Linked DNA regions of Homo sapiens: regions 1 and 3 are each linked to region 2. The links come from fine-mapping of genetic effects on gene expression. A gene starts in region 2. Each other region holds a variant in brackets. All regions are shown on one strand. Distances are between the middles of the regions. Region 1 holds the start of C19orf84 (chromosome 19 open reading frame 84). Region 2 holds the start of SIGLEC10-AS1 (SIGLEC10 antisense RNA 1). Region 3 overlaps LIM2 (lens intrinsic membrane protein 2).

Region 1 (10,616 bases), 23 kb after region 2:
AATTGTAAAACTAAAAGAGCAGGATTTTGAAGCCTCTCAGACTCACTTAGCCCTGCTCCCTGGAACTGATAATTTGAACAAGACAGCCAATGGGTTGTCTGCAATCAATCCTCTTAAACGGATTAAGGCCATTGAAAACTCTACACTTGGAAATCCTGTTCTAATAATTATGTGCTTGTGCTGTCTCCTTTTAGTCTGCAGATGCGGAAGCCACCTCTGGAGAGAAAGCCACCATCGAGAACAAGCAATGATAGCTGTGGTGGTTTTACAAAAAAGAAAAGGGGGTCATGTTGGAGAAAAGCTAAGTAGTGAGAAAAAAGCTGAGGCAGGGCTTGCTAGTCTGACATAATATAAAGAGTCTTGGAACATGCCGGGGTCCAGGGTCTAAAAGCCCTTGTGGTCTTTGGAACACCAAGCTCTGTGCTAAAGGGTGGAAGGCTGCCCTGCGGCACCGTAATCTAAGCCCAGGGCATAAAACCCCTCATGGCTTGGATGGAATCCAGGGCTCAGAGCATGAAACCCCTCGTGGCCTCTGGAATGTGTCTAGACTTGCCGGCTCCTTGCTTCTAGCATTCCCAGGCTCATAGATCAAGTGTATCTTAAACTAGAAGAACATGTTTCCCATTATCTCAAGTAGCAGAACATGTTCCATATGCGTCAAAGAAAATGCTAAACTGTCACAGCTGTAAATCATGCGCTTGATGCACCACTTTCTTTCAACCCCCACATCCTCACTACCTGCTTCTTTGTTTGATCACCAATAAACAGTGCGGGCTTCCAGAGCTTGCGGCCTTCGCAGCCTCCATACTAGCATTGGTCCCCTGGACCCATCTTATGCACTCTTGTCTTTTCTCATTCCTTTGACTCCGCCGGACTTCATAGCCCCCACAGTCTAGTGTTGGGTCTGATCACCCCAACAGTCAGGAGTTCGAGACCAGCCTGGCCAACATGGTGAAACCCCATCTCTACTAAAAATACATAAATTAGCCAGCCATGGTGGCAGGCACCTGTAATCCCAGCTACTTGGAAGACTGAGGCAGGATAACTGTTTGAACCTGGGAGGTAGAGGTTGCAGTAAGCCGAGATTGGGCCACTGCACTCCAGCCTAGGCGATAGATCAAGACTCAATCTCAAAAAAAAAAAAAAAAAAAAAGGAATTGATTATGATTTTCCTTCTTCCTTCTTTGATTTTCCAGAAAACAGAAAGTATTTCAAAAACTAATTGTCAGACGTCTACAAAAGGCCATCTTTTACATAAGAAGAAGAAAAAGGTTTTAGGCACTCTTGACACTCCTGAGAAGACTGTGGATATCCAGGGCCTCACACCAGTTTGTACACCAACATTTTTGGAGAGACGAAAATCTGAAATGGCTGAAATGAATGACGATGATGAAGCTAATGAAATAGTTTTCAAACAGCCCATATCCTATGTAAAATAAGAAACACAAGAGACTCAAACACCTACACATTCACGGAAAAAAAGAAGCAAAAGCAATCAGTGATTTTCAGTGTATTACATATAATATTTCTTCTGGAAAATATAATATTTTTATGAGAGTGGACTTTGTGTTTTACTAGGTACAATGAAATGCAACCCTTGACAAGACTTTCAGAGGTAAAATGCACTGTTTGGTCAAGTTAAGGAAAGCAATCTGTAATTTTGGATTGCCTGCCTTTGGCTGAAATACAAGGGTGCATACCAGCTTGCAGTGGCTTGACTGACATTGCCTCTTTGTCCTGGCCTCTAGTTTTCTTTTGATATTTCACAGCTCTCCTTAGTTACTCTACCTAGATGGAAAGTTGACCACTAACTGCAGGTTTAAGTACTAAACTGCAGCCTTTTTCTATCACCAGCAGTTAAAGACCACCAATCTGGTTTGTCCATCTACATGGTTTGTCAGGGACATTTAACTCATGAGAGTGCTTTAGATTTCAACATCAGATGGTTGAAGCTGGAAGGCAAATTATATGTAGTGTGAGAAGGCAGTTCCAGTTTTTTGTTTTGTTTTGTTTTGAGATGGAGTCTTGCTCTGTCCCCCTGGCTGGAGTGCAATGGCGCGATCTCAGCTCACTGCAACCTCCGCCTCTTGGGTTCAAGTGATTATCCTGCCTCAGCCTCCCCAGTAGCTGATTTTTAGTAGAGACGGGGTTTCACCATGTTGGTGAGGCTGGTCTCGAACTCCTGACCTCGTGATCCACCCACCTTGGCCTTCCAAAGTGCTGGGATTACAGGCGTGAGCCACCGCGCCTGGCCCAGCAGTTCCAGTTTTAGCACAGATTTGCTTATGTATTAGTTCAAATCTTAATAGAGATTCAAAAACGACTTCTTTTTTTTTTTTTACCAATTTGTTAAATTAGTTTTCGTTGGGCTAGCATGGATTCATAACCACCATTTTATACTAGTATCACCAGTGAGGAATTGTATTTCAAGGATCAAACAATAACCAGCAAATAAACTTTTTTCTACAAAAAAAAAAAAAAAAAAAGCATAGATGCCCACGTGCCATGGGGCTTAATGAGAACAAGCTCCATGCCGAGCCCTTTACGTACACTGCCATGTTCGAATGTCATAGCAACTCTGAGACAAGTGTTCTTGGCCAGCTCCCGAGTGAAACTGAAGCTCAGAGAGGCTAAGCAAATTACCCAAGGTGACTCAGCTTTTCAGGGGCAGAGCAGTATGTGACATCAGTCAAGCATGTCAGTTGGACTCCACGCCCATGATCTCAACACCTTCCTGTACTTCCTCTCATTGTGGCAATGAACAGCTAGGGCTTAGGCCGGGCGCTGTGGTTCACGCCTGTAATCCCAGCAATTTGGGAGGCCAAGGCGGGTGGATCACTTGAGGTCAGGAGTTTGAGACCAGCCTGGCCAACGTGGTGAAACCCCGTCTCTACTGAAAATACAATAATTAGCCAGTCCTGGTGGCAGGCACCTGTAATCCCAGCTACTCGGGAGGCTGAGGCAGGAGGCTCGCTTGAACTCGGGAGGCGGAGGTTGCAGTGAGCCGAGATCGCATCACTGCACTCCAGCCTGGGCGACAGAGCGAGACTCAGTTTCAAAAAAAAAAAAACACACAACAACAAAGGTGACACCCGAACCTTGACGCCTCGACAATAACAACAACAAAGGTGATCCCCGAACCTTGACACCTCGACAGGGCTGAGAGGGGAGAAGCTGGGTGAGGGCCTCTAAATCTGGGGAGATTTCAAGGAAGGGAGGCAAAGATGACCTCCTGGACCTAAAAGAGGAGAAAGGACATGAGGGTAGGAGAGGCACTGAGAGGCCCCCCTTGCCCTTGGAAGGGTCCCAAGTAGATGGGGTGGAATGAATGGGAAAGAGCAGGGACCCCAGAATCTCCAGGGACGGAAGGGGGTTCGGGGAGGAGGGGGATTTTAGGAAATCTGTAAGCCCCTACGAAATGGGGAGACCCCGAAGGTCGAATCTTGGAACTTTGAAGGTCTAAAGCCGGTAGGGATAGGGAGTGGAGAGTGAAAGGAAGGGTCTGGTTCTAAGCGGTGGATGGGGCAATGGGGCTCCCCAGTGGGCCAAGGAGATGCCGAGAGGGATTCTCCCCTCAACAACCCAGTCCCCTCTCTCCCTCCAAGCTCCGCTCAGCATCTCCAGGCCTGGGCCGGGTCTCCCGGATGCTACCGGAACCTACCCGCACATGCGCAGACAAAAGCCTCAGCAAAAATGCCTGAAGGCGCAGAAAGGCGCTCGCCAACCAGAGGGAGAAGGCGAGGCGCGCGGGGTCCGCAGGGTGGGGATTCAAAAGCGGCGCGAGTTCTCTGGCCAATCAGAGCCGAGAATAGTGGCTCGCGACGCTTAACAAGTGGGCGGGACTCTAACCAATCGCCGCTGCGTTCCCCTACAAATCGGAAGTCTCGCTTCCCCTTAAGCAGAAGTTGGTTGGCCAGTTTTCAGAACTAGCCTGTCAATTTTGGAAGCTGAGTAAAGGGCATTTCCTTAGCGACACAAGGTCCCGCCTCCAGTCTCCTAGCGCCGCAGGGGCACGGGGGACGGGACAGAAAAAGCCTTAAAGGGCGAGGTACGTGGTAAGCGGTCAGACCCTGGTTTCCAAATGGCGTCAGATCCTGATCTTAGTAATAGGAGAAGCAATAAAAGAACAAGCTAGAACAATCCCATGACGCTAGACTTGAGCAGTGAGCGCCATCTGCCTCTGGGATTTAAAGTAACCGAATGGATAGACCCAGACTTGAAATCTGAAGATCTGGGTTCTCATCAGTCTCCAGGAAAGAAAAGCAAGCCAGATCTCTTGGCAAAAATCTTATTCCGGCCACTCAGTGCCACTAACATCGTCCAGCATAGGGCGATCCTGTTGCCTGGGACTTCTCCTCCTTAAAATGCAATGTTGTGGGCCAGGCACGGGGGCCTATCCCAGTAATCCCAGCACTCAAGGTAGGAGGATTACGTGGGGCCAGGAGTTCGAGACCAGCCTGGCCAACATGGGGAAACCCCATCTCTACTAAAAATACAAAAATTAGCTGGACATGGACATGGTGGCACATGCCTGTAATCCCAGCTACTTGGGAGGCTGAGCCAGGAGAATCGCTCGAACCCAGGAGGCGGAGGTTGCAGTGGGCGGAGATCGTGCCATTGCACTCCAGCCTGGGCGACAGAACAAGACTGTCTTAAATAAATAAATAAATAAATAAATAAATAAATAAATAAATAAAAATTTTAAAATACCCTGTAATCCTAGCACTTTGGAAGGCCGAGGTGGGAAGATTGCTTGAGGCCAGGAGTTTAACACCAACTGGCCAACATAGAGAGACCTCTTCTCTATTAAAATAAATACATAATTTTTTAAAATGTGGATTAAATTAGTTCATATTATTCATTAAAATAGATCTCCAGTCTTGCCAACATAGTAAAGCCCCATCTTTACTAAAAATACAAAAATTAGCGGGGCGTGGTGGCAGGCGCCTGTAATCCCAGCTACTCAGGGGGCTGAGGCAGGAGAATCGCTTGAACCCGGGAGGTGGAGGTTGCAGTGCACTGAGATAGCACCACTGCACTCCAGCCTAGGTGACAGAGGGAGACCCTGTCTCAAAAAAAAAAAAAAGACCTTCATTTTACAAAATAATTTAGAACTCCCCCAACTCTCAAGGTTGTGAAAAACAAGGAAAGACTTAGAGAGTGCTGCAGATTAGAGAAGACTAACGAGAGAGGATGACTAAATCCAATGTGGTAGTCCAGATTGGATCCAGGACCAGAAACAAAGGACATTAGTGTAAAAACTGGTAAAATCCAAATAAAGCCTGCAGTTTACCTAATAGTCCTGTCAGTTTCTTAGTTGTGACTAATGTACCATGTACATTACATGACAATGTAAGATGGCAACATTAGGGGAACTCCTGTCTGGAGTAAATGAGAACTCTCTGTATTATCTTTGTAACTTTTCTCTAAGTATAAAAGTATTCCAGGCCAAGCATGGTGGCTCATGACTGTAATCTCTTGGTACTTTGGGAGGCCAAAACAGGAGGATCTCTTGAACCCAGGAGTTTGAGACCAGCCTGGACAACATTCTGAGACCCTGTCTCTACAAAATAAGGCACCCCGTGTGGTAGTGTGTGCCTGTGGTCCCAGCTACTTGGGAGGCTGAGGTAGGAGGATGGTTTGGGCCCAGGAGGTTGAGGCTGCAGTGAGCCATGATCACACCACTGCACTCCAGCCTGGGTGACAGAGGGGGACCCTGTCTCAAAAAAAACACA[C/T]GCAAAAAGTATTGCAACATAAAGCATTTATTTAAAAATATAAATACCTATGCCACTCCTCTTAGCTGATTATTTTCCAGTCCCTGAATCACTACATTTGTTTTACTTTCAGAAGCTGTTCCCTCCCCAGGAATATTCAACTTCCAGTCTTCCAGTACCTTCCCATAACAGCCTTTTCTAACCATCTTATCTACTTAATTTTTTATTCTTTTTTTTTTTTTTTTTTTTTGAGATGAAGTTTCACTCTGTAGCCCAGACTAGAGTGCAATGGTGCCATCTCAGCTCACTGCAGCCTCCGCCTCCTGGGCTCAAGTGATTCTCCTGCCTCAGCCTCCCAAGTAGCTGGGACTACAGGCATGCCCCACCATGCCTGGCTAATTTTTGTATTTTTATTTATTTATTTATTTATTTTATTTATTTTTGAGACAGGGTCTCACTCTGTTGCCCAGGCTGGAGTGCAGCGGCACGATCTCAGCTCACTGCAACCTCTGCCTCCCAGGTTCAAGCGATTCTCCTGCCTCAGCCTCTCGAATAGCTGGGATTACAGGTGCCTGCCACCACGCCCAGCTAATTTTTGTATTTTTAGTACAGATGGGGTTTCACCATCTTGGCCAGGCTGGTCTCAAACTCTTGACCTCAAGTGATCCGTCCACCTCGGCCTCCCAAAATGCTGGGATTACAGGCGTGAGCCACCGGGCCAGGCCCCTAACCACGTTATCTGCTCTATCTCCCTACCTCGGTGACTCTATATCCTCTTGCCCTGATTTGACATCTTCAGGTACATATTCTTACAGAATATATGCTATGTATGTCTCGTCTGTCTCCCTTACAAGCATGCAAGTTTCCTGAGAGTAGGGGCCATGTCTATTCTGTCCCGTGTGCAGCCTGGAGCCCAAATCATAGCAGGCATTGAATATTTCTTAAATGAATGCATGTAATAATGACGATTGCTTCTCAGCAAAACACTGTCACAACCACCAGCAATAACAATAAGTAAATCTCATGTGTTCAGCCTAATTGTGGTCCAGATTCTGTGTCTACTAATACACAAGTAATATCACAAGAACCTGGACAGTAATATTAGCCCCATTTCTCAGATGGAGAAACTAGGGCATAGAGAGTAGAAGCACCTAAAGTAACAAAGCAAGTTAGAGACACGGCACCTAGTAGAACCCAGCGCCTAGAATGGCTAAGACCTCCAGACCATCTACCACGCCCTCTGCCCTAGGGAGTGTCCACATTTCCCTACCTAAAACGTCCCTTGAGTCCTAAAGAATCTGTCTTGAGGATATGGCAGGAATAAAGAGAGAGAAAGACAGAGAGAGAGAGAGAAGGGGGCAGGGGTCCCGGGACTACTGAATCTGAGAGAGGAAGGGGGCTGGGGAACCAGAGTACGGGGTCTGAAGAAGGAGGGGCTGGAGCCTGGACTCCCGGGTCTGAAGGAGGAGTGGCTAGGACCCTAGACTTCCGGGTCTGAGGGAGGAGGGGGCTGGGGATCTGGACTCCTAGGTCTTAGGGAGGAGGAACTGGGGATCTGAACTCCCGGGTCTGAGGGAGGAAGAGCTGGGGATCTGGACTCCCGGGTCTGAGGGAGGAGGGGCTGGGGCCCTAGACTTCCGGGTCTGAGGGAGGAGGGGGCTGGGGATCTAGACTCTTGGGTCTTAGGGAGGAGCTGGGGATCTGGACTCCTGGGTCTGAGGGAGGAAGAGCTGGGGATCTGGACTCCTGGGTCTGAGCGAGGAGGAGCTGGGGATCTGGACTCCTGGGTCTGAGGGAGGAGGGGCTACAGGGTGCTGGAGGCCTTAAGTAAGTGATCTTGGGGAACTAGATCCAGGTCCCCGCCTGAGCTCTTTCTTTTGGGATCCCGGATAACTCCGCGAGCCACGCCCCATTTCTGACCCGGCCAAGCCCCGCCTCTCTCGGCCTCGGCCCCTCCCCAACCTTCCCGGGCCCCCGAAGGATCTCGGAGGCGAAGTTGCTAGAAGATACGTAAGAGGGCCCCAGTGGAGATGGAACAACCAAAGGACGGGGCTGGGCCTGAAGGGTGAGACAAACAAAGACCTCCTGAGAGGGGGACAGAGACCCAGAGAGAGGAGGGGACAGAGAAAACGAGAGAGAAAGGGCGCGCTGAACAGACCTGCATAGAGAATCAGGAAAAACAAAAAAGGCTCAGGTATCATCACATAGGTACAGAATCTTAGAAGATCTTGGTGAGAGTTGAGCGAGATACTTAGAAACAGGCGGAGGCCGGGTGCAGTGGCTTATGCCTGTAATCCCAGCACTTTGGGAGGCCGAGGCGGGTGGATCACATGAGGTCGGGAGTTCGAGACCAGCCTGACCAACATGGAGAAATCTGTCTCTCCTAAAAATACAAAATTAGACGGGCGTGGTGGTGCGTGCCTGTAATCCCAGGTACTCGACAGGCTGAGGCAGGAGAATCGCTTGAACCCGAGAGGCAGAGGTTGCGTTGAGCCAAGTTAGCGCCATTGCACTCCAGTCTGGGCAACAAGAGTGAAACCCCATCTCAAAAAAAAAAAAGAGCTAGAAACAGATACTCATCGAACAGAAATTTCCAAGAATAAACCAAGAAATGTGAAGACTCCAGGGATCCCCAGAAGGCTGGAGAAATCGTAGCTGTCCACTGTTTTAGCACTTACCAGACCCAGCGCTGTCATACGCACCTTTGATACCATCCAAAGCCATCTGTGACTATAAACAAATTAAGGTTCGGAATAGGAAAATGATTTGTCCAAAGATACACCACCAAAAGCGAGGCCACCAGGAATTGGAACTGAGTTCTGTCTGGTGCCGAAGTTCATGGCAGAGCTGTCTGTTTCTTTAGAGAGACCCGGGTTAGAAACAAAAAGAGAGAAGCGGGGGAGGAAGTCACAGGTGGGCACTGAGGATGGAGAGATGGCTGCCTTCTGCAGAGGTGCAGAGACAGCCTGGCAGCGAGAAACAAGAAAGTACGGAGACGCTGAGCCCCACTGACCTGTCTTTTTGTTGTTCTAGGAACAACCTGTCCCTGCCGTCATCTGGGACCGAGCCATGGCCCCCTGCGCCTCTCCCAGCCCCTCCACCCTTGCTCCTGAACTCCACAGACCCCACCCACCTGGGGCTCCCGGAGAGCGTGGCCTCTGTCACCGTGCCCATACGCCTGGACACCCTCTCCTGCCTCCTGCACAGCGCCCTGCTGGGGGCCTACACCTTCCAACAGGCCTTGCCCTCTTGCCCCTGCTGCTCCCAGGCAGGCCACTCCCAGCCGGGGGCAGTTAGGAGGCCTCCCAGGGGACGCGGAGGCTGGGAAGTCAGGCACAGGCCAGGCTGGGGCCGAGGCCTGCATCGACGGGGCCTTGGGAGAGCTGAGCAGCCAGAGAGGGGCCGGGCGGGGGGCCCTGGGGCTGGCCCCAGGACCCCACCAATGACACTGCCATCACCACCAACACTGCCTGCCCAGGATGGGAAGAAAGAAGCTCGAGGTCCAGAGCCACCCCTGGAAACACCACTGGCTGCTGAGGACTGGGAGACAGAGTACTAGGACCTTGGAGGGTCAGGCACCTGAGATTGCAGTCACCCAGGAGGGTTTTCCTGGGGCCCAGAGTGATCTCAGCCCTGTCAGAAGAACCCCAAGAAACATCTTCCATCCTCCCCTCTCCCCAAAACCACAATCCCAGGAGTAGCTCCTGTGAGGCACTTGGTGAACCTGACCTAAGTCACCTGAATCCCAAGTGAGAAGAAAATCCTAAACCTCGTACCCAAACCTGTCTCCTTGATGGCCTCAACCCCATTCCCAATGCCATCCCCAACCACAACCACAATCCTTACCTCATTCTCAACCCCCAGGGCTCCTCCAACCCCATTCCCTATCCTCTCCCTAATCCCAAAGCCACTCCTACCTGCCTCTCTCTTCCCCACTCTCAATACCCTGTTCCCAAACCCATTCATTCCCATCCCTGTCACCAGTCCCAGCTCCACTTCTGCGCCTCAACCCTAACCCACCCTCTTTACCAACCCCTTTCTCCTCATTGCCTGTGTACCTCAGCCCATCTTTAATGTCCTCTGAATCTACAGCCCCAAAGAGCTCCATCCTCAACCTCAGCCACAGCCCTGTGTCCATCCCCACAAAGAACCGCATTGGCCCCACATACCCAGACACCTGTGACTCCCCACCCCACTGCCTGCTCTTCAGGTAGAAAGCCCTGGTTGAACAATAAACGCATGACTCTCCCTGAATCTTGCGTGTGTGCGCGCGCCCGTGTGTGTGTGTGTGTGTGCGTGTGTGCGTGCTTACACAGCTCGGACAAAGCCAGGGTTGCTTTGAGCAAGGCTGGCGACAAGGTATTGGGTTCCGGGGAGGGTCACAGAGGTCAGTGAGTGGGTGGGGGGAGCCCCCTGGATGCCTGCTTCAGCGAATTCCATTTGAGGCCTCTGCCACCGCTGCATTTCTGCCTGCTGGAAGCTGCTGGGTAGTGGGACCATTGTGTAGGGAGGCTTAAGGGATTTGGGGAACCTAAGGGGGCAAAGAGGCCAGTGACCAGGCTCAGCTCAGTCTGCACAGAGGGGCCGTGGCAGAAGGAGGGCTCGGGCAGGCTCTGCCACTCAGGTAGGCACCAGGCGTGAGACCTGTAGCCCCCTCTTCCCCAAGTCCCAGGAGTCTAGGGTCCCAGCTCCTTCTTCTCCCAGGACCTGGTGTCCTACCCCCTAGCCCCTAGCCCCTTCCTTACCCACCACCCAGGAATCCAGGCTCCTGGGCCCCTTCTCACCTAGGACTCAGGAAGCTAGGCCTCCAGCCTATTCCTTGCTCAGAACCTGGAAGTCCAGGCCCCCGGCCTTTTCTTCCCAGAACCCAGCCCCGCTCTCCCTGTTGTCTTTCCAGGATCC
Region 2 (10,616 bases):
AGTCCCGGGGCCCCAGGCAGCCTCTCCAGTCCTGTCTGACCAAGGCTGGGAGGGCGGCTTGGGTAGGAAGGGCTGGGAGCAAGTCGGGGCGTCGGGGGCTCTGGCCTCGCTGGAGAAGGGGACGTGGTGAGGAGGCCACAGAAACCACAGGAACTCAGAAAAGTGAAGAGGGGGGAATGGGAGGGGGCAGCGATGTGGAGAAACCCGCGGGAGGAGGAAGACGGTGCCGCTCTCCTGGCTCCTGTCGGCTGATCCCATGGGTGTGAAATGTTCAAAGGCAGAGGTGGGGCTGGGCCCAGGCTGGGGGCCCTAGAGATCATCAGCTCCTTAGGGACCCACCTCCACCAGGACCCAGGCACCTTTCCTCCCCTCACTCCTCCCTGGGAGAGGCCCTTTTCTGAGCTCTGTGGAGAGGAAGGTGTGATGTGTCCCACCACAAGAGCTCCCCTGCGGGAAGGAGGCTGGTGTCCTCAGAGAAGGCCCAGATTAGGTCACAGGGAAGCAGGGATCAAAGGGAAGGTGAAGCTGGGCTTGGTGGCTCACGCCTGTAATCCCAGCACTTTGAGAGGCCGAGGTGAGAGGGTCACCTGAGATCACGAGTTCGAAACCAGCCTGGCCAACACGGTGAAACCCTGTCTCTACTGAAAATACAAAAATAAGCTGGGCATGGTGGCAGGCGCCTGTAATCCCAGCTACTCGGGAGGCTGACGCAGAATCGTTTGAACCCGAGAGGCAGAGGTTGCAGTGAGCTGAGATCATGCCAGTGCACTCTAGCCTGGGTGACAGAGCACAACCCAGTCTCAAAAAAAAAAAAAGATAAAAATAAAATTAAAAATATGAAAATTAGCTAGGCGTGGTGGCAGGCGCCTGTAGTCCCAGCTACTCGTGAGCCTGCACCAAGAGAATCGCTTGAATCAGACAGGGAGCGGCTGCAGCGAGCCAAGATCATGCCACTGCACTCCAGCCTGGGCAACAGAGCAACACTCTCTCTCAAAAAAAAAAAAAAAAAAATGGGGAGAGGTGGATATTAGGGTCTGAATTGTGTCCCCCCTCCCCCCACCAAATTTCTGTGTTGAAGTCCCAACCTCCAGTACCTAAGAATGTGGCTGTACATGCAGACAGTCTTTAAAGAGATACAGTTGTTCCACTGTATTAGTTGGGGATTGGTTCCAGGATCCCCACCCCTTGGATACCAAAATCTACAATGCTCAGCTGCCTTATACAGTAGTGTTTGCGTGGGACCTCTGCACATCCTCCCATCTCCAGGTTACTTATCACACCTAATACAGTGTAATGCGGTGTAAATAGTTGTTATGCTGTATTTTTAATTCATGCTGTTTTTTATGGTTATGTTGGCTTTTGTTGGTTTTGTATTTAAATGCCGTGATGGGCAGGTGGTTGAATTCCGGGATGTGGGACCTGTGCATACTGAGGGCCGGCTGAAATGAGGTCACTCATTTGGACTAGAGTGGGCCTAGTCCAATATGACTTGAGTTCTTGTAAGTTCTTATAAGAGCAGGAGTTGAGGAAACAGACACCCACAGGGGAACAGCTGTGTGAGAACACAGGGAGAAGTGGCATCTGCAAGCCAGGCAGAAGCCTCTGAAGGAACCACATCTTGGTTTTGGACGTCTAGTCCCAGAACTGTGAGGAAGTCAATGTTGTTGTTTCAGCCCCTCTGTCTGGGGCACGCTGTTACAGCAGCTCAAGCGACTGATACAGTGGATGAGGCCGTGGAGCACACCTGTAATCCCAGCACTTTGGGAGGCCGAGGCGGGAGGATCACTGGAGCCCAGGAGTTCAAGACCAGCCTGGCCAACATGGTGAAACTCTGTCTCAGCAAGGTGCAGTGGCTCACGCCTGTAATCCCAGCTCTTTGGGAGGCTGAGGCGGGTGGATCACCTGAGGTCAGGAGTTCGAGACCAGCCTGAACAACATGAAGAAACCCCATCTTTTCTAAAAATACAAAATCAGCCAGGCATGGTGGCGCATGTCTGTAGTCCCAGCTACTTGGGAGGCTGAGGCAGGAGAATCGCTTGAACCCCGGAGGTGGAGGTTGCAGTGAGCCAAGATCATGCTACTGCACTCCAGCCTGGGCAACAAGAGGGAAACTCCATCTCAAAAAACAAAAACAAACAAACAAACAAACACCTCTGTCTCTACAAAAATTATCAAAAAAAAAAATCAAAAATTATCTGGGCGTGGTGGTGTGTGCCTATAGTCCCGGCTAGTTGGGAGGCTGAGGTGGGAGGATCGCTTGAGCCCAGAAGATGGAGGCTGCACTGAGCCATGATCACACCACTGCACTCCAGCCTGGGCAACAGAGCAAGACCTTGTCTCAAAAACAAAAAACAAAAATGCCATGGATGAAAGAACCAGGACAGGGCAGAGGCTGGGTCATCTCCTCCAGGAGGCCTCTCCTGACTTCCCTCCACCAGGAAGAGCTGACCACTCCTTCCCCAGGTCCCATCCTGAATGTCTGTCCAGCATCCAGTTCATTTAGGGGACCTTCTGTACTTTGTTTCTAAGAATCTTCATTTGCTAACCTGGGGCCCTGGAGCTGACTCACCATGGAGGATTCACCTCCAAGTCCCCCTAAAGCTCAGTGCTTGATACCCAAGGTATGTGGAGGTTGAAGGATGAGTTCTGTGTTTCGGTGTGACCCAAACAGAGTCATTTCAGGAAGAGCTCAGTGAGGGGAAAACATCTTGTAGAGTTTACTCCATTCATTGCAAATTACCCCTTCCCTAGTCTGTTCCCCCCACTCTGCCCCTCACTCCCGCCTTCCTCAAACTCTTCCCATCAGCATTAGCTTTGGACATATGTGTTCTAATCCCAATGGGTGTCCCAATTGAATGACAGAGGAGGAAGGGAGACTGGGAAGTGGACTAGGGCCTGGTTGGGGCAGGAGACTGCTTCTGGGGACCAAGGGTCAGTGAGCTCACCAGGAAGCATGAAGAGGTGGAGCTGACACCACCCTACGGTGGCCAGATTTAGAAAAAAAGAAATTCAACATGCTCAGTTAAATTTGAATTTTAGGCCAGGTGCGGTGGTTCACACCTGTAATCTCAGCACTTTGGGAGGTCAAGGCAGGTGGATCATTTGAGGTCAGGAGTTCAAAACCAGCCCTGCCAACATGGTGAAACCCCACCTCTACTAAAAATACAAAAATTAGCTTGGCGTGGTGGCGCGTGCCTGTAAGCCCAGACTCAGGAGGCTGAGGCAGGAGAATCACTTCAGCCTGGGAGGTGGAGGTTGCAGTAAGCAGAGATTGCACCACTGCACTGCAGCCTGGGTGACAGAGTGAGACTCTGTCTCAAAATATAATTAATTAATTAATTAATTTGAATTTCAGATAAATTTATTTTGCTTTCTGGTATAAGTATATCCCATGCAGCATTTCGGACATACTTATACCAAAAAACATAAAATAAAATACTTTATATTGTCTGTGAAAGCTTTAACCAGGCATCCTGCATTTTACCTGACAAGACCAGCCCCCTCCAGTAACGGTCCCTTCCCCTGTACCCACCACCTCCACCACCAGTGGCCCAGATAAGGGTAGCTCACTGTGGACTTCTCACTTCTGCTTTTCCGATGACCCAGGGCCCAGAGGGAGAGCCCCCACCCCACTACCCCACCCCCAGCCAGGCCCCCAGGATAGACACAAGCCTGCCCTCTCCTCCTACACAGGGAGCTCTGGAAGGACCAGCTCAACAAGCCCAAGGCCAGGCTGGGCCCCCAGGAGACCCAGAGGACAACTGGGCAAGGTGGGCCGGAGAGTGTGGGGGAAGGCAAAGGAGTTCTGTGAGCTCAGCGTCTGAAGCTCATTTCATGCATCAGGCCCCAGGGCTCAGCTTCCGCCTTCGGCTTCCCCTTCTGCCAAGAGCCCTGAGCCACTCACAGCACGACCAGAGAACAGGCCTGTCTCAGGCAGGCCCTGCGCCTCCTATGCGGAGATGCTACTGCCACTGCTGCTGTCCTCGCTGCTGGGCGGTGAGTGGGCCAAGGGCCGGAAAGGACCTGGGGCGGAGCTAGGGCTGGGGTTGCAGGTTGAGCCTCTGTCTCCCCACAGGGTCCCAGGCTATGGATGGGAGATTCTGGATACGAGTGCAGGAGTCAGTGATGGTGCCGGAGGGCCTGTGCATCTCTGTGCCCTGCTCTTTCTCCTACCCCCGACAGGACTGGACAGGGTCTACCCCAGCTTATGGCTACTGGTTCAAAGCAGTGACTGAGACAACCAAGGGTGCTCCTGTGGCCACAAACCACCAGAGTCGAGAGGTGGAAATGAGCACCCGGGGCCGATTCCAGCTCACTGGGGATCCCGCCAAGGGGAACTGCTCCTTGGTGATCAGAGACGCGCAGATGCAGGATGAGTCACAGTACTTCTTTCGGGTGGAGAGAGGAAGCTATGTGAGATATAATTTCATGAACGATGGGTTCTTTCTAAAAGTAACAGGTATGGAATGGGGTGGGAACCCCTGCCTCTCACACTGGGGAGGGACCCTGGGGACAGCCTATGGGCTGAGCAGAGAGGGCTCTCAGGGACCCCTGCAGCACAAGAATCTCCCACCACGGTCTCTGTCCCAGCCCTGACTCAGAAGCCTGATGTCTACATCCCCGAGACCCTGGAGCCCGGGCAGCCGGTGACGGTCATCTGTGTGTTTAACTGGGCCTTTGAGGAATGTCCACCCCCTTCTTTCTCCTGGACGGGGGCTGCCCTCTCCTCCCAAGGAACCAAACCAACGACCTCCCACTTCTCAGTGCTCAGCTTCACGCCCAGACCCCAGGACCACAACACCGACCTCACCTGCCATGTGGACTTCTCCAGAAAGGGTGTGAGCGCACAGAGGACCGTCCGACTCCGTGTGGCCTGTGAGTGTGGCCTGGGAGGGTGGGGTGTGCAGACAGCCCCGGTGGGTGGGGAGGTGGAGGAGCCCAGTGGGACAGTGAGCGGCTCCCAGCTCAGGAGCATCCAGGGAGAGGAAGCTGTGGGGTCCCAGGATGCCGCCGCAGCCCTGGGAGGGGGATGGGAATGGCGTCTGGTCCACACACGTGAGCCCTGGCGCTGGTTGTCACTTGTCTTCCCGGGATAGTCCCACTTTCTTTTCCCTGAGGGAGTTTTTTCCAGGTGTGAGGAATAAATTGTCCCTCCCTGAAGCCAGCTCACAATCTTGTTGCAGATGCCCCCAGAGACCTTGTTATCAGCATTTCACGTGACAACACGCCAGGTACTGAGGGCCGTCGGGCTGGGGCTGGGCCAGTTGTCTTTAGATGAAAAGGCTTCAGGGGATGAGGGGATGTGCTCCTCCCTGTACCCCTTCTCTCTTTCTCCCTCCCTTTCTCTCTTTTTTTTTTTTCCTCCCACTCCAGCCCTGGAGCCCCAGCCCCAGGGAAATGTCCCATACCTGGAAGCCCAAAAAGGCCAGTTCCTGCGGCTCCTCTGTGCTGCTGACAGCCAGCCCCCTGCCACACTGAGCTGGGTCCTGCAGAACAGAGTCCTCTCCTCGTCCCATCCCTGGGGCCCTAGACCCCTGGGGCTGGAGCTGCCCGGGGTGAAGGCTGGGGATTCAGGGCGCTACACCTGCCGAGCGGAGAACAGGCTTGGCTCCCAGCAGCGAGCCCTGGACCTCTCTGTGCAGTGTGAGTGTGCCCAGCAGGGGCCTGGAGTCCATTGGGAGGGCAGAGGGATACAGGGGCTGGGCTCAGGGTCCCAGAGCTGAGGGGGCCTGGAGCCCCAGGCCTCGGAGACCGACCTTCTTACCTGTGTAGACCCTCATGCAGTTTGTGTCTGGGACTCAGTGGGTGATTCTGCCCTGCCCTTCTATCCCACCCACTTCCCCCACCTCAGTGTCCAGGATGGTTCCCTTTACCCAGAGGGAAGCCCCTGGTCCGTCTAGAGCCGGTCCCCTGTCTCCATTTCAGATCCTCCAGAGAACCTGAGAGTGATGGTTTCCCAAGCAAACAGGACAGGTAGGAAAGGGGACAGAGGAGCCAAGGCCTCTCAGTGCCGAATTGGGGGCCCAGGAGTCTGGAGGGTCCCCACGCAGGAGGGTCCCTGAGCCCTGAGCTGCTCATCGATTCTGCCTCTTCCTTCCCTAGTCCTGGAAAACCTTGGGAACGGCACGTCTCTCCCAGTACTGGAGGGCCAAAGCCTGTGCCTGGTCTGTGTCACACACAGCAGCCCCCCAGCCAGGCTGAGCTGGACCCAGAGGGGACAGGTTCTGAGCCCCTCCCAGCCCTCAGACCCCGGGGTCCTGGAGCTGCCTCGGGTTCAAGTGGAGCACGAAGGAGAGTTCACCTGCCACGCTCGGCACCCACTGGGCTCCCAGCACGTCTCTCTCAGCCTCTCCGTGCACTGTGAGTGGGGGAAAGGGGACACCTGGGTCCCAGGAAGGGGACCCTGCTGAGTCCTGTCCTCCCTCCCCTCAGACTCCCCGAAGCTGCTGGGCCCCTCCTGCTCCTGGGAGGCTGAGGGTCTGCACTGCAGCTGCTCCTCCCAGGCCAGCCCGGCCCCCTCTCTGCGCTGGTGGCTTGGGGAGGAGCTGCTGGAGGGGAACAGCAGCCAGGACTCCTTCGAGGTCACCCCCAGCTCAGCCGGGCCCTGGGCCAACAGCTCCCTGAGCCTCCATGGAGGGCTCAGCTCCGGCCTCAGGCTCCGCTGTGAGGCCTGGAACGTCCATGGGGCCCAGAGTGGATCCATCCTGCAGCTGCCAGGTTAGGGGGCCGCCTGGATGCCAAGGTTCTTGGAGGAGAAGCTGACTGGGGCAAAGAGTAGGGTCCTGTGGTTGGAGCAGGAGCTTGGAGGGACACAGCAGACCCGTGGCATCTGTATGTAGACAGGAAAACACAATGGGAAGTCCTAACACCTGGGCCGGGGTGTGGCAGGGTTTCCTAAAAGTAAACAGAGGGGTTGCAGATACAATGTCCGCCATGGGAACCGGAAGCCTTAATGCCGAGTGATGAGCGGGCTTCGTGAGCCCTGCGTGGATGGGAAATGCTCACCTTGCCCTCTCCGTGTGCAGATAAGAAGGGACTCATCTCAACGGCATTCTCCAACGGAGCGTTTCTGGGAATCGGCATCACGGCTCTTCTTTTCCTCTGCCTGGCCCTGATCATGTAGGTTAAGAGGAGGCGTGGCGGGGTCTGGGGCCTGGACCCAGGAAGAGGGGAGGTGTTGCAGGCCGAAAGAGTGAAGGTCGTGATCAACGCAGTATACCTCTGGAGGTTACATGAGTAAACAGCAAACTGTTCTCATAAATGCAGAATGTTGTCCAACTGACAAACTGCGTCTGCTTCCCAGAGGGAATGCTGAGGGCAGTCACGCCCCAAGCGAAGTGTTTCTTGTAATTAGGCACAGCTGAAGCTTGTTAGTAATAATATGAACCTGTGATCAATTAAACAGCTGACCAATTGTTACCTCCTGCTCTCTGCTCTTTCTACCCAATAAATACAAAGGGCTGTAGAGGCTCAGACAGCTGCCCTGGCTCACTAGTAGCAGGGAACCCTCTTCTTCTTCCCCTGACCCCTTCCTTTAAAATAATTTCTTTTGTCTTAAGTTTTCATTTCTACGTTTGTCCTCCTTCTTTCAGTCTCATAATGACGGTCTCAAGTGGTAACAGTAGTAACTGTCATAGTGACGGTCTCAGGTAGTAAACGTGGCAGTCTGTCACAGGGAGGTGCAGCAGGGCACAAACAGGTGGGTTCATTTCCTCAGCATGAAGATTCTACCGAAGAGACGGACTCAGACAGAAACCCCGAGGCCCAGGTTCTCCCGGCACAGCACGATCCTGGATTACATCAATGTGGTCCCGACGGCTGGCCCCCTGGTGAGTGTCTGGGCCATGCTTCCACTTTTTCTCTTCTCTAAAGCTGACATCCCACTTTCTGACTTTTGCACCCCTTGTCTTAGCGACATCAAGGTGGGAAAAGCACCGATAGTTCTGAATTCAAATCCTGCCTGGCACTTACTAGCTATGAGACCTCAGCCACGTCACTCACCCCCTCTGAGCCTTCATTTCTTCCTCTGTCTCCTTTGAGAGTTGGTTTGAGGATTAGAATACATGCACTTTCTCAATCTGTAGCCATTGTTCCATTATTACTGCCACCATTGACATGACTACACTTAACTGCTTAACAATTATGTGTATCATCGGGAGGCTGGGCATCCTAGGGATTCAGCACAGGGGGTCTGAAATCAGCCTGCATGGGTTCAAATCCTGCTGTCATCACTGTGTCATGAAACAAGTGTCTTAACTTCTCTGTGCCTCAATTTCTTTAGCTGTAACATGGAGACAATACTAGCGGCCACCTCCTAGGATGATGCTGGGTGTTAAATATATTGTACTTGCATAATAAAATATTCAGAATATCACCTGGCCCCTGGGTAATACTCTGTAAATTCTGGAAATTATTAAGAGATAACATCTTATGCTGATGACTGCAAAATTGTATCTCGTGGCTCCTTCCCTGAAGACTGTCTATGCAACATCTCCATGTGGGTGTCTAATCAGCACTTCAAACTTAGCCTGTCCAAAACCAACTTAAGATAATTCCCCAGCCTGAGCAACATAGTGAGACCTCTTCTCTACAAAAAAAATAAAAAATTAGCCGGGTGTGGTGGTGCATGCCCATTGTCCCAGCTACTTGGGAGGCTGAGGTGGGAGGATCTCTTGAGCCTGGGAGTTGGAGGCTACAGTGAGCCATGATGACACCATGCACTCCAGCCTGGGTGACAGAGTGAGACCCTGTCTCAAAAAAAAAAAGGCCACGCCTGCTGGCTCACACCTGTAATCCCAGCACTTTGGGAGGCCGAGGTGGGTGGATCGCCTGAGGTCAAAATTTTAAGAGCAGCGTGTTCAACATGGTGAAACCCCATCTCTACTAAACATACAAAAAATTACCTGGGCATGGTGATGGGTGCCTGTAATCACAGCTACTCGGGAGGCTGAGGCAGGAGAATTACTTGAACCCAGGAGGTGGAGGTTGCAGTGAGATCATGCCACTGCACTCCAGCCTGGGCAACAAGAGCGAAACTTCATCTAAAAAAAAAAAAAGACTAATTCCACCATTTATGCTCCATCTCTATCCCCATCTTAGCAAATAACACCACATTTTCCCAGCCAAGTCTAAAGCTTTAGAATCATATTTCACTCCTCTCTTCTCTGTCACCCCACAACCAATCCATCAGCAAATTCCCTTCAAAATACAACCAAGCCAGTTCTCCCTACTCTTCCCTCACTACTACAAGCCATGCATCAACACCCCCCACCCCACCCCGGGCACCACTGGCCCCTTCTGCATGCCTTCTCTGCTTCCGTTCTCACCCCCTCCAGTCTTTCTCTCCGTGCATGCATGCTATTCTTTATTTTATTTATTTTTATTTTATTTTATTTTTTGAGATGGGATTTCACTGTTGTTGTCTAGGCTGGAGTGCAGTGGCAAGGTCTCGGCTCACTGCAACCTCCACCTCCTGGTTCAAGCGATTCATCTGCCTCAGCCTCCTGAGTAGCTGGGATTACAGGCATCCACCACCATGCCCCCCTAATTTTTGTATTTTTAGTAGAGACGGGGTTTCACCATGTTGATCAGGCTGGTCTCAAACTCCTGACCTCAGGTGATCCACCCGCCTCAGCCTCCCAAAGTGCTGGGATTACAGGTGTGAACCACCGTACCCGGCTATCAATTATTTTTTTGAAACAGATTTTGTCTCTGTTGTCCGGGCTGGAGTGCAGTGGCGCAGTCTCAGCGCACTACAACCTCCACCTCTCAGGTTCAAGTGATTTTCCTGCCTCAGCCTCCTGAGTAGCTGGGACCACAGGCATGTGTCACCACGCCCGGCTAATTTTTGTATTTGTGGTAGAGACAGGGTTTCGCTATGTTGGCCAGGCCGGTCTTGAAATTCCCTGGATGACCTATTAAACAGTCATCCCACCCTCCCTTTCGCTGCCTTCTAAAGGTGCTCAAATTTCTTGATGGCATTTGTCACTTACCAGTCATTGTACTTTTGCTAATTATTGTCTGTTCCTCCTTCCAAGATGGAATGCAAGCTCAGCAAGGCAAGGGCAGGGACTTAGTTTCACTCTGTGCTGTAAATCAGTGCCCGACGCGTGGTAAGTGCTCAAATATTTGCTGAATGAATGAATGAAGGATGGTGGTTCTTCCCTCAGGCTCAGAAGCGGAATCAGAAAGCCACACCAAACAGTCCTCGGACCCCTCTTCCACCAGGTGCTCCCTCCCCAGAATCAAAGAAGAACCAGAAAAAGCAGTATCAGTTGCCCAGTTTCCCAGAACCCAAATCATCCACTCAAGCCCCAGAATCCCAGGAGAGCCAAGAGGAGCTCCATTATGCCACGCTCAACTTCCCAGGCGTCAGACCCAGGCCTGAGGCCCGGATGCCCAAGGGCACCCAGGCGGATTATGCAGAAGTCAAGTTCCAATGAGGGTCTCTTAGGCTTTAGGACTGGGACTTCGGCTAGGGAGGAAGGTAGAGTAAGAGGTTGAAGATAACAGAGTGCAAAGTTTCCTTCTCTCCCTCTCTCTCTCTCTTTCTCTCTCTCTCTCTCTTTCTCTCTCTTTTAAAAAAACATCTGGCCAGGGCACAGTGGCTCACGCCT
Region 3 (6,494 bases), 39 kb after region 2:
GAGGGAGCTGAGAAGACTCAAGTCCCCGTCTGCCTGGCAGGTTGTTAGAAAAATGGACTATCCATTAGAGCAACTTTCTGGGGCCTAATAAAACTGATGTGAAACTACTAAAGTGTTAATACTTGAGGGACTAGGATGGGGAGAAACAGCTGTAAGGGTGGTGGGTGTGGGCAGGGGTGCTTTTTTGTGTGTTTTTCTTGTGGTTGTTGTCTTCATTGTTTTGAGACGGAGTTTCGCCTTTGTTGCCCAGGCTGGGGTGCAATGGTGCGATCTCAGCTCACCGCAACCTCTGCCTCCTGGGTTCAAGTGATTTTCCTGCCTCAGCTTCCCAAGTAGCTGGGATTACAGGGGCCCACTACCACTCCTGGTTACTTTTTGTATTTTTAGTAGAGATGGGGTTTCACCATGTTGGCCAGGCTGGTCTCGAATTCCTGACTTCAGATGATCCACCCACCTCTGCCTCCCAAAGTGCTGGGATTACAGGCGTGAGCCACTGCACCCGGCCCAGGGGTGCTGTATTATGGAGGCCTGACCTTCTCAGTTTCTGCACGGAGGGGAACAGAGATGAATCAACAGTCCGTGTCCAGGAGCTCACCACAGTTCAACTTCCAGGATATGGATGTGTAGGATAATCGGACAAATGAAAAGATCTCTGAAAAAACTCCCTGCCCACCCCGCCTCCAGTTGGCTCTCCCCAGCCTCCTCTCTCCTCCCCTGATGCGTCCCTTCAAAGGAAACACCAGAACCCTGAGCCTTACCTCCGGCACCTGCTCTTCACACACCATTCATGACCGTGATCTTCTCTTCATTCACTCATTAGTAATTCATTCTATTAATTGATGCTGGCTGGGTGTGGTGTCTCACACCGGTAATCCCAGCACTTTGGAAAACCAAGGCAGGTGGATTGCTCAAGCCCAGGAGTCCCCCAGGCAACATGAGAAAACCCCATCTCTACAAAAAAAAAAAAAAAAAAAAAAATTAGCTGGGCATGTTGGTGTGTGCCTGTCCCAGCTACTCAGGAGGCTGAGGTGGGAGGGTCGCTGGAGTCCGAGGAGACGGAGGTTGCAGTGAGCTGTGATAGCACCACTGCACTCCAGCCTGAGCGAGAGTAAGACTATGTCTCAAAATAAAAAAGAAAAAGAAAAAGAAAATAAATGGTTGCTAACTGCCATGAGATTTACTGATGTCTATCATAAGACTATTTCATAAGGCTGATTCTAATCAGACTATTTACTACAGCTATGCTAATAAATGTTATGTTTATAGAGGCTTATTCCCTAAAATAATATTTACTGGGGCCTCCTCAAATAAAAATACTGTATTTATAGAGGTTTTCTCTAATAATAATGACAATTGAAGATTTCTCTAATAATTTATTGAGGCCTATTTAAATAGAAATATTTGCCGAGACTTATTCTAGTAATCATATTTATAGGGGCTTACTCTAGCAATAATAATGATATAATTATGACTCCAGACTCAGGACTCCAACTTACCTGCTCAACTTACTTACTCAACATTCCCACTTGAAAAGAAGAGGCATCTCCAATCTCACATATCCAAAAATAAGTTCCTGATCTCACACACAGCCTATGTGTTCCTCCCATGGTCTTCCCCATCTTAGGAAATGGCAACCCCATTTTTTATTTTACTTATTTGTTTTTTTGAGATGGAGTCTCGCCCTGTTGCCCAGGCTGGAGTGCAGTGGTGCAATCTCGGCTCACTGCAACCTCCGCCTCCCCTCCTGGGTTCAAGTGATTCTCCTGCCTCAGCCTCCCAAGTAGCTGGGATTACAGGCGTCTGCCACCACGCCCAGCTAATTTTTGTATTTTTAGTGGAGACGGGGTTTCACCATGTTGGCCAGGCTAGTCTCAAACTCCTGACCTCGTGATCCGCCCGCCTCGGCCTCCCAAAGTGCTGGGATTACAGGTGTGAGCCACCACGCCCGGCCAAACAACCCCATTTTTATCCAGCTACTCAAGCCAACAACTTTGGGATTCAATGTTGGCTTTTTTTTTTTTTTTTTTTTTTTGAGACAGGGTCTCACTCTTGCCCAGGCTACAATGCAGTGGCGTGATCACAGCTCACTGCAGCCTCCACCTCCCAGGCTCAACTGAGCCTCCCACCTCAGCCTCCTGAGCAGCTAAGACTACAGGCATGCACCACCCACTATGCCTGGGTAATTTTTTAATTTTTTGTAGAGATGGGGTCTCCTTATGTTGCCTAGACTGGTCTCTGTCTACTGGTCTCAAGTGATCCTCCCACCTTGGCCTCCCGAAGTGCTGGGATCACATGCGTGAGCCACCCCAGCTGGCCTGTGTCTGCTTTTGGTTTCCTGTAAATCCTCAAAGACAGCACCTGGCACATGGTAATCACTCAAAAGAACATTTGTTGAACAATAAATCTTTATTCAGGCCAACTGACTTACATAAAGTAAGTGCTGTTTATTGACTTACATAAAGTATTATTTATTGAAATGTACTCTAATGATACTGAGATTTAATATCTTTTTATCATTATAATAGCCATTAAATATTATGACTAGAGTGCACCTCAATAGAAATGATGATGCCTTCCATAATAACTGTTTACCATTAGCATTCATTTCTTTAATAGAACGTAGGTTAATTGAGGATTAGTCTTTTTAAATTTTATTTTATTTTATTTTTTTTGAGATGGAGTCTCACTCTGTCACCCAGGCTGGAGTACGGTGGTGCGATCTTGGCTCACTGCAACTTCTGACTCCCGGGTTCAAGCGATTCTCCTGCCTCAGCCTCCCGAGTAGCTGGAATTACAGGTGCACGCCACCACTCCCAGCTAATTTTTTGGGGTCTTCCGTGGCAGATGGGGGCTACTGAGGAGCTTTCAAGCCCGGGAGAGGTTGGAAGGGGCTGGAGAAAGTTGGAAGAGACCTGGGTGATTCAAAAAAACTGACAGTGCTTAGACAAGACTGACAGAGACCTAAGAGAACCAAGTGGCCAAGCAGGCGACGTGAGCTGTGAACCCCGAAAATCTGAGACAGGTCTCAGTTAATTTAGAAAGTTTATTTTGCCATGTAGTCACAGCTACTCAGGAGGCTGAGGCAGGAGAATGGCGTGAACCCGGGAGGCGGAGCTTGCAGTGAGCCGAGATCGTGCCACTGCACTCCAGCCTGGGCAACAGAGCGAGATTCCATCTCAAAAAAAAGAACAATAGAAAGTTTATTTTGCCAAAGTTGAGGACATGCGCCCGTGACACAGCCTCAGGATGTCCTGACGACATGTGCCCAAGGTGGTCGGGGCACAGCTTGGTTCTATACATTTTAGGGAGACATGACATATCAATCAATAGATGTAAGAAGTACATTGGTGCATCCAGGAAGGTGGGGACAACTCAAAGCAGGGAGGGGGATTCCACGTTACAGGTAGGTGAGAGACAAATTGTTGCATTCTTTGAGTTTCTTTTTTCCTAGATGGAGTCTAACTCTGTTGCCCAGGCTAGAGTGCAGTGGCACAATCTCGGCTTACTGCAACCTCCACCTCCTGGGTTCAAGTGATTCTCCTACCTCAGTCTCCTGAGTCTGAGACTACAGGCGTGCACCACCATGCCCGGCTAATTTTTGTATTTTTAGTAGAGATGGGGTTTCACCATGTTGGCCAGGCTGGTTTTGAACTCATAACCTCAGGTGATCCACCTGCTTAGGCCTCCTAAAGTGCTGGGATTACAGGCATGGCCTCTTTTGAGTTTCTGATAAGCCTTTCCAAAGGAGGCAATCAGATATGCATCGATCTCAGTGAGCAGAGGGATGACTTTGAATAGAATGAGAGGCAGGTTTGCCCTGAGCTGTTCCCAGCCTGACTTTCCCCTTTAGCTCAGTAATTTTGGGGCCCCAAGATTTTCCTTTCACAGAGCTCTCAGGAAAAGCTTCAGAAGGAGGCCTGGGGTTTTCCTCTGGCAACCACAGACCACATCTGGTTGAGAAAGCTGCTGGAGATCCTGCGAGCAATTCTGTCTTCAAGGCCCCAGCTGCCTTGCCTTTGTGCTCTTAAGAGATGGTCTTGGCTGGCTGGGTG[C/T]GGTCACTCACGCCTGTAATTCCAGCACTTTGGGAGGCTGAAGCAGGTGGATCACCTGAGGTCAGGAGTTCGAGACCAGCCTGACCAACGTGGAGAAACCCCGTCTCTACTAAAAATAGAAAGTCAGCCGGGCATGGTGGCGCATGCCTGTAATCCTAGTTACTTAGGAGGCTGAGGCAGGAGGATCTCTTGAACCTGGGAGGCAGAGGTTGCTGTGAGCCCCGATCATGCCATTGCACTCCAGCCTGAGCAACAAAAGTGAAACTGCGTCTCAAAAAAAAAAAAAAAAAAAAAAAAAAAAGATGACCTTCACTCACCCGCTCTTACTGGCTTGTGGTGTCTGTCAGAGGGCCTGGGCCTGTGATCAGCCTGTGATACCTACATGTGCAGAGACTCACTGGAGCCAGGTACAGGTCACCTCTGTGTATGCATGCATGCATGGGTGTGATGGTGGTGGTAGTGGGACCCACTTGGGGAGATGAGAAATGAGGTTACAGGCTTGGACCTGGAGGTGAAAGGAGAATGAAAATGGTCGGAGTTAGGTATGAATTATAGAGGTTGCAGAGAAGAATGAAAAGACAGTGGCTGGGCGCAGTGGCTCACTCCTGTAATCTCAGCACTGTGGGAGGCTGAGGCAGGTGGATCACCTGAGGTCAGGAGTTCAAGACCAGCCTGGCCAACATGGCAAAACCCCATTTCTACTAAAAATACAAAAAAAAAAAAAAAATTAGCCTGGTGTGGTGGCGTACAACCATAACCCCAGCTACTCAGGAGGCTGAGGCACAGGAATCACTTAAACCCAGGAGGCGGAGGTTGCAGTGAGCCAAGATCATGCCACTGTACTCCAGCCTGGGTGACAGAGTGAGACTCCATCTCAAAAAAAAAAAAAGGGTTGGGATGGGAATGAGAATAGGGTCAAGTTTCAGGAAGAGGATGGGGTTGGGTTTGGAGTAGGGGCTGGGGTTAATAATGGAGAGGGGTTTGGTTTGGAGATAGGGTGGGGTTTCAGAATGAGAATGGAGTTAGATTTGAGGGTGGGAAGGGTATAAGGGTTGGAACTGGGAATAAGGATGATGTTGAGTTTGGGAATTAGAATGACGTTAGGTTTGGGGATGGGGGCGAATCGGGGGATGGGGTTGAGTGTGTAGTTGGGACTGAGAATGGAGTTCTATTTGAGGATGGGGGTTGGAGCTAGGGTGGAGATTACGAATAGGGATGGGATTGGGTATGGAGTTGTGTTCAGGAATGGGAATAGGGTTAACTTTGGGGATAGGGATGGGTTGAATTTGTGGTTGGAACTGGGCTTGATACTGAGTTTGGGGATGGAGTTGGGTTTGGGGTTAAGGATGGCTTTGGGTTTGGGAGGGGGTCAGGGTCACAGATAGATAGGCTGTGTGCTCTGACCTGCTACTCACTGCACACCATGGCAGGTTTTCCGGAGACCTGGCCTGCTCATGGCCTCTGCCACCTCTGGGAGCCTGTGCTCATAAATGTGTTCTCAGAGTGGTGCAGATCTGAGTGAAGGATGGGGGCTGCCGATCTGAGTCTCTCCAATAAAGGAGAGGAACCAGTCTTCCAGGTCATTTCCCATTCTCCACATTTGCCAGCTGTCCTGGGACTGCTGGACCAGTTCATCTCCAAGACAGAGGTCCTCTTCCAGACTACTCCCTATGTATTAGTCTATTCTCACACTGCTATAAATAACTGCCTGGCCGGGCGTGGTGGCTCACACCTGTAATCCCAACACTTTGGGAGGCCAAGGTGGGCAGATCACCTGAGGTCAGGAGTTAAAGACCAGCCTGTCCAACATGGTGAAAACCCGAAAATCTACTAAACCTGAAATCTACTAAAAATACAAAAATTAGCTGGGTGTGGTGGCGGGCACCTGTAATCCCAGCTACTTGGGAGGCTGAAGCAGGAGAACTGCTTGAACCTGGGAGGTGGAGATTGCAGTGAGCCGAGATTTTGCCACTGCCCTCCAGCCTGAGTGACAAGAGTGAGACTCTGTCTCAAACAACAACAACAACAACAACAAATGCCTGAGACTGGGTAATTTATAAAGGAAAGAGGTTTATTTGATTCACAGTTCAGCATGGCTGGGGAGGCCTCAGGAAACTTACAATCATGGTGGAAGGTGAAGGGGAAGCAAGCCACTGTCTTCACAGAGTGGCAGGAAGAAGGCCAAGCGAAGGCAGGAAGAGCCCCTTAAAAAAACACCATATCTTGTGAAAACTCACTCACTATCACAAGAACAGCATGGGGGAAGCCGGCCCCATGATTCAATTACCTCCACCTGGTCTCTACCTAGACACGTGAGGATTATGGGGACACAATTCAAGGTGCGATTTGGGTAGGGACACAAACCCTAACCATATCACCGTTTCACAGAGGTCAAGTTTTCCTGGGCCTTCTACCTGGGCTGTGGTACCGTCACCTTATACC

Evidence for each region. PIP is the estimated chance that this variant, and not a neighbour inherited with it, causes the effect.
Region 1: its variant is fine-mapped to the expression of SIGLEC10-AS1 in whole blood (TOPMed, PIP above 0.99).
Region 3: its variant is fine-mapped to the expression of SIGLEC10-AS1 in whole blood (TOPMed, PIP above 0.99).

Annotation. Positions count from the first base shown.
Region 1 is chr19:51,387,641-51,398,256 of GRCh38, reverse strand. It overlaps C19orf84 (chromosome 19 open reading frame 84), which reads left to right and starts at 7,666. Exons shown (of 2, transcript NM_001193623.2): 1 at 7,666-7,779; 2 at 8,748-9,968. The coding sequence starts at 7,745. The coding sequence ends at 9,273. It overlaps LIM2 (lens intrinsic membrane protein 2), which reads left to right and starts at 10,283. Exons shown (of 5, transcript NM_001161748.2): 1 at 10,283-10,338. It also overlaps the pseudogene NIFKP6. RefSeq lists enhancers at 2,534-2,743, 3,799-4,395 and silencers at 3,684-3,823, 3,834-3,893. The variant C/T (reference allele first, on the strand shown) is at 5,736.
Region 2 is chr19:51,410,925-51,421,540 of GRCh38, reverse strand. It overlaps SIGLEC10-AS1 (SIGLEC10 antisense RNA 1), which reads right to left and starts at 5,817. Exons shown (of 3, transcript NR_164125.1): 1 at 5,409-5,817; 2 at 4,811-5,112; 3 at 3,344-4,409. It overlaps SIGLEC10 (sialic acid binding Ig like lectin 10), which reads left to right and starts at 3,899. Exons shown (of 11, transcript NM_033130.5): 1 at 3,899-3,996; 2 at 4,076-4,459; 3 at 4,591-4,875; 4 at 5,184-5,231; 5 at 5,374-5,643; 6 at 5,926-5,973; 7 at 6,103-6,360; 8 at 6,433-6,717; 9 at 7,026-7,119; 10 at 7,718-7,829; 11 at 10,170-10,616. The coding sequence starts at 3,960. The coding sequence ends at 10,442. RefSeq lists enhancers at 3,670-3,739, 3,800-3,969.
Region 3 is chr19:51,373,522-51,380,015 of GRCh38, reverse strand. It overlaps LIM2 (lens intrinsic membrane protein 2), which reads left to right. Exons shown (of 5, transcript NM_001161748.2): 5 at 1-107. LOC124904752 (a long non-coding RNA gene) reads right to left here. Exons shown (of 2, transcript XR_007067312.1): 2 at 6,103-6,256. Among named protein-coding and RNA genes, the nearest start is that of NKG7, 4.1 kb to the right of the region's middle. RefSeq lists a silencer at 3,232-3,489. The variant C/T (reference allele first, on the strand shown) is at 4,053.